Linked DNA regions of Homo sapiens: region 2 is linked to region 1. Evidence: fine-mapped expression QTL. Tissue or cell type: prefrontal cortex. Region 1 holds a variant in brackets; the other region holds the start of a gene. All regions are shown on one strand. Distances are from middle to middle.

Region 1 (2,755 bases):
TGGAGTGCGGTGGCGCGATCTCGGCTCACTACAACCTCCGCCTCCCGGATTCAAGCAATTCTGCTGCCTCAGACTCCTGAGTAGCTGGGATTACAGGCGCCCGCCACCACGCCCGGCTAATTTTTGTAGTTTTAGTAGAGACGGGGTTTCACCATGTTTAGGCAGGTTGGTGTCGACCTCCTGACCTCAAGCGATCTGCCCGCCTCAGCCACCCAAAGTGCTGGTATTACAGGCATGAGGTCCCGCGCCCGGCCGACAATTTACACTGTTCTCCAGTTGGGGCGGAGCGGGAGACACTATGGAGCCCACCTCTGCAAGAGGCAAGGCTTGGCGAAAGGCAGAGACCCCAACCATGGGAAGGTGCACTTTGGGCACCGAACTTTAGGGAAAGCGCTCTGGGTCAGGCGTCTCCTCCAGAGTGGTCAGTTTAGAGTTAAAAAGGCCGCCTTCAAAATAGTTTTAAAATCTATACATTTACCCAGACATACACATTTTTCGAGACAGGGTCTTGCTCTGTCTCCCAGGCTGGAGCGCAGTGGTGCGGTCGCAAGCCATCTTCCTGCTTCAGCCTCCCGAGGAGCTGGGACCACAGGCCCGCGCCACCACGCCGGGCTAATTTCATTTCGTTTCGTTTGTTTTATTTTCGTTTGTTTGTTTTGTAGGGATGGAGTCTGACTGTGTTGCCCAGGCTAGTCTTGAACCTCTGGGCTCAAGGGATCCTCCCTCCTCGGCCTCGCCAGGTGCTGGGGATTCAGGCTTGAGCCTCCACTCCCGGCCCTATTAATTATTCTTAATTAAAACATTTCAAGGACGCAGTGTTTGGGGCCAGCGCGGCGTTTGCAGTGGCTGCTCCAGCCTCGAGGCCGCAGGTCACCGCGCGGGCCCCGTGCCTACTGGCCCGGCAGTCCTGCGGGTCAGCTCAGGGGAGTGCTCTGGAGAGCCCTGAGCCCACCTCCTGCGCCCCGCCCAACCTCGGGTCCCCAGGCCCAGCCTCTGACACGCCGCTCCCAGCGCGGCCACGCCACAGCTCCGGGCTGCGCTCCCCCAGGCAAAGGCGCCGCCGGCGCGTCCAGCGCGGCCTCCTCCTCCAGGCGGCGCTTGTGAGTCAATGGAAAAGTCCTTGGCGAACTGAGCAGCCGCCTAGTATATCTCTGAAGCCTCCTGCGGAGACTTCACGGCTTGTCCCAGGAGCTTCTACAACAGCCTGGCATTGAGAGTAGAGTTGTAATATTTTCCGCCAGTTTTTCCCAGCCCGGCCCCGAAGCGTCTGATCTTAAAGTCCACGTATCAGACTCCGGGGGGCGTCCCTGCAAGAGCGCCAGGTCCCCGACACCCACCAGGGAATGAATCTGCGCCCAGGTCCCCGACACCCGCCAGGGAATGAATCTCCGTCCCAGGAGAAGGGCGTGGCGAGGGGAGAAGCAACAACCACAGGACCCGTGACAGTGGCCAAGCCTTAGAGGCCCCGCATGCCTGCCAGGC[G/T]CCCGAGCCCACGCAGTCCAGGTTTCCCCATCCGGGCGGGAACCAGCTGTTTCCCCTGCACGGGCGAGGGCGCTGGGGTCACCTCCGCCGACGCCAGGCGTGAGCTCCAGAACCCGCTCCCAACCGCCCGGTCCCGTGAGCGCGGGGAGCCTGGCTCTCGCCTGACAATAAAGAAATCATCACGGACAGAAGGAAAGAGGAGCGAGGCTGGGAAGGGAGCGGCTTTAATCCGGGGTCCGCCCCCTTCAATTCTCCAGCGCAGCGGCCCCGAAAGTGGGGTGGGGACGGGGATTGAGGCTGAGCTCGCTTCTTCCTTGTTTTCCGGGTCTCGCGCCTCTGAAGCGAACTGGGCCTGGAGGGGTGCTGGGGATCGAGGGAGCGGCGTTGGTGGGTGACCGAGGGAAAGGTGGGGCCAGCCCCTGGGCACCGGTCGGAGGAGGATTACGAGGCGGAGCCGCTGCCTGCCCGCGCCTCACCCGCTTGGTCCACCCAATAGCTCCGCTGTAGACTCGCGGCGGCAGGAGCGGCGGGCCAGATGGTGATTACAACCCGGGGCGCTATCCCTTTGGAACCTGACCCCCAACTCCGCTCAGTAACCGGATTTCCGGAAGCCGCGACCTCGAAGCCCCCAGCGTTTCTCCACCGACGGCGGGGCCGGGGCTCCTGGAAGCCTCGGAGCCGCAGCTCCAGCCTGCAGCGCACGCCTTGGCCCCCAGGGAGCAGAGAGGCAGAGTACCCCCCTGCATCCGGAGCATAGCAAGCATGCCCCAGGCTGAGGACCTGCGACTTGGTGGGACTTCGGTGCCCGCCCCTCCGCCACTACAGGGAGCAGAGGCGGCTCTGGAAGTCGGTTTAGTGCGGAGACCGCGACCGGAGGAGCGCAGAACGCTCCTCCCAGCGTCCTGGGCTCCGCAGGCACAATTTTTAAACCAGAGGCGAAATCCGAGTCCCGCCGCCCTCCGGGGAGGGAGCGTGGCCGCCTAGCCGAGCCCCTTCTCTGGCTCCGCCCGCTTTTGCGCCGCGAGGCCGCCTGGTGAGTTCCAGGGCCCTGTGGTCCCCCAGCCGCCGGCGCTCTCGGGTGTCTTTTGGCCGCGGCAGGAACGGAGCTGGGCGCTCAGACGGCGCCGGGGTCGTTTCTGTGCCCCCGCCCGGTGGCCGGAGCCGCAGCCTTGCCCCTTCCCCACTGGGGCAGCGCCTGCCTTTCTCGCGGCCGGACCGCGCCGGAGTCCCAGGCCCCAGGCAGCCCGGGCCGCAGCTGTCATGGAGAAGCCCG
Region 2 (2,755 bases), 29 kb after region 1:
TCATAAAGGAAGAAACAGTGAACAAGTAGTAAGATCTTGATTGGAGGTGCTGGTAAGGTTGCAGGAGTTTTGTTTCAGGGCAGTATAGGGAGTGACCTGGACAGATAGGAGGATAGATAGACCTGGTCAGAGTGGGATACTGTGGGGGTTGCAGTCCTTGGACCTGACAAGGTCTAAGGTCTGATCATGGAGGGAGGGGGAAGCTGAGGTAGGGCAGAGGACAGGAGTGGGCTTCATGAGACCAAAAGGATGTTGGAAGGATTATCTACCTGGATACTGAAATCTTCAAGAAGTAAGAGGTGTAGTGTGAAGAAGTTACAACACTCTAAGCTCTTCAGGGATAAGGGAAGCATGTGCCACGTGGGTAGCCTCCCAAGTCCAGCACCCAGTATCTAGAATATGCAGAGTGAATACCTGGGGGCTGCTGAGGGCAAGAACAAGGTGCCTGTGAGAAGACCTGACGCCTGGGGTTCTCGTGACAGGAGTGGGCCTAGTTTTTGGTGTAGAATTGAGCCTTGAATGCACCAGCGGGATCATATTGAAAAGAAACCCTCCAAGACTAAAGGAAGATGCATCCTCTGACAATGTACGCTCTGTAGGCTCCCAAGTAGCTGGGCTGGGGATTAGATGGACTCCAAGGCATTTCCTCAGGTGGCAATGGGCGGATCCCTGGGAAGGTAAAGCTGTGCAGTAAGAAAACGGCAAGATGCTACGTTCACTCAGGTAAAGCCCCTTTCCCGGGTTTAGGGAGGGCGAGGCAGTTTAGGCTGGGTCAGTTTGTCCCTGCCCTCACGGTTTGTTGGTCCTGGCAAAAGAGGGCCTTATGTTATTTATTTTTCTTAGAGACAGTGTCTTGCTCTGTTGCCCAGGCTGAAGTCCAGTGGCTCATCTCAGTTCACTGCAGACTCCGCCTCCTGGGATCAAGCGATCCTCCCACCTCAGCCTCCAGAGTAGCTGGGACCACAAGCACCACAGGCGCCCGGCACGATGCCGGCTAATTTTTTTTTTTTTTTTTTTTAAGAGAGAGAGGTAGGCTCCCTATGTTGCCCAGGCTTGTCTTGAATTCCTGGGCTCAAGCAATCCTCCCTCCTCGGCTTCCCAAAGTGTAGGGATTACAGGCGTGAGCCACTGCGCCCTGCCAAAAGAGGGCTTTAGGGCACCCCAGAACGCGAGATCCCCCTCATCTGTAATCTTTAAAGAGGAGGAAGTGTACTCCAAATCAAGCGATAGTCCATTCGTCCTTGGCACGGTGACTGCCGGGAGGCCAGGACCAAATGTGTCTCCTTCCGGCTTTTGCACCACACTAACTAACCGGCGCCAGGCCGCAGAGCCGCCCTGGCCTTCGGCGAGAACTCAGGCGAGCGCGGCGCACGCTGCTCCGGAGTCCCACCGCGGAAGTTGAGGCCGCGGATTCCGAGGGCGGGGTGGAGAGGAATCTGGAAGGACCTGGACCCGGTGGAACGCACTGCGCGGACGGCGCCTGCGTCCGCACTCAGCTGTTCAGCCCTCTTTCTTCAGGCTCTCCCCTGAAAGCCGTCCCCATGCCGGTCTCTTTTTTCTGCCTTCTTGTTTCCCTCCGGCGAGTCAGCGCGACTGTGAATTTCCGTTTCCGGCGGTGTCCATGCTGACCTGAGGAGTCGCGGCTGCGAGCAGGTTCGGTGCTGCGGGTTGGGGTAGGCGGCGGTGGGGTCCCTGGTTCTGGGGCACTGGGAAGATCGCGAGTCGTGCGTGTGGGAAGGTCCTCCCCCGGTCCTCCGGGTCATCTTTGCTCCCGAGGAGCGGCATATTTCTCATCTGGCGGAGGTGTCCTGGGGTAGTTGGGTGAGTGACGTGATGAATCCCTGCAGAGAGCCCAGACGGGGAGGGAAGGTGGCTGGGCGACGTCGTTTCCTGGCGACGTGGTCCCGGTAGGAGACTTAGACCTGAGCTGGATCTGTTGACCCCAAATTGTGCTTTTCCCACCAAGAAGAAAGACAGGGAGAGAAACATTAGTACAAGTGCTGAACTAAAATATAGCAGAGAAGAAACATAATCTCTGAAATCACACAGCTATTCGGTTTCAAAGCGTTCCTAGCGCCCAGCTCTCCTAACTCCTGGCCAGTGTTCTTGACATTATGGTAATACATAAAGACTTTGTTTCCGCTGGTGTGTGTCTGTGGGAAGCCTCTGACTCACCTCCGTGCTCCAGTAGCACCCTGTGCAGCCTTCCAATGTCGCCCTTATTGCGTGGCGCGGAAGATAATAGTTTGGATTTCCTCTGCAAGTCAGATAATAGCTGTATCCACTTACTGGCACAGTGCCTAGCACATCGTAGACAGACACAAATATTTATTCAACGGAATGAATACAGTACCTTAATTGAATGAAATGGCATCCTGCTCCGCTTTTTTTTTTTAATCAAGCTGTCAGATTTTATGCAGCCCGATTTCCTAAAATAACTCACTAATTCAGTGATTGCCAATTTATTAGCCACAGATTCCCAGGTAACTCAGAAATCACTGGAAGGGTCTCTGTAAGTTCATGGGGTCTCCAGGTGTCATCTAGAACCAGTCCTATCTCACACGTACAGCTATTTCTATTTTTCAAATGTATGTAGATAAGTTGTAATTTAGGAGTTTTACAGAGTCAACAGGTACTAAAAGTAATACTGCGATCATATTGGAGGTTCATAAAAACGTTTCACATTTTTTTATTAAAATTTAAGTTTTAGTTTAAGTTAGGAAACCACTTCATCAGTCCAGTTGATACCTGGGTC

Evidence for each region. PIP is the estimated chance that this variant, and not a neighbour inherited with it, causes the effect.
Region 2: it holds the start of BMS1, and the variant in region 1 is fine-mapped to the expression of BMS1 in prefrontal cortex (GTEx, PIP 0.94).

Annotation. Positions count from the first base shown.
Region 1 is chr10:42,752,247-42,755,001 of GRCh38, forward strand. LOC283028 (a long non-coding RNA gene) reads right to left here. Exons shown (of 1, transcript NR_136644.1): 1 at 1-2,755. Among named protein-coding and RNA genes, the nearest start is that of BMS1, 29 kb to the right of the region's middle. The variant G/T (reference allele first, on the strand shown) is at 1,483.
Region 2 is chr10:42,781,178-42,783,932 of GRCh38, forward strand. It overlaps BMS1 (BMS1 ribosome biogenesis factor), which reads left to right and starts at 1,618. Exons shown (of 23, transcript NM_014753.4): 1 at 1,618-1,653. RefSeq lists an enhancer at 1,449-1,798.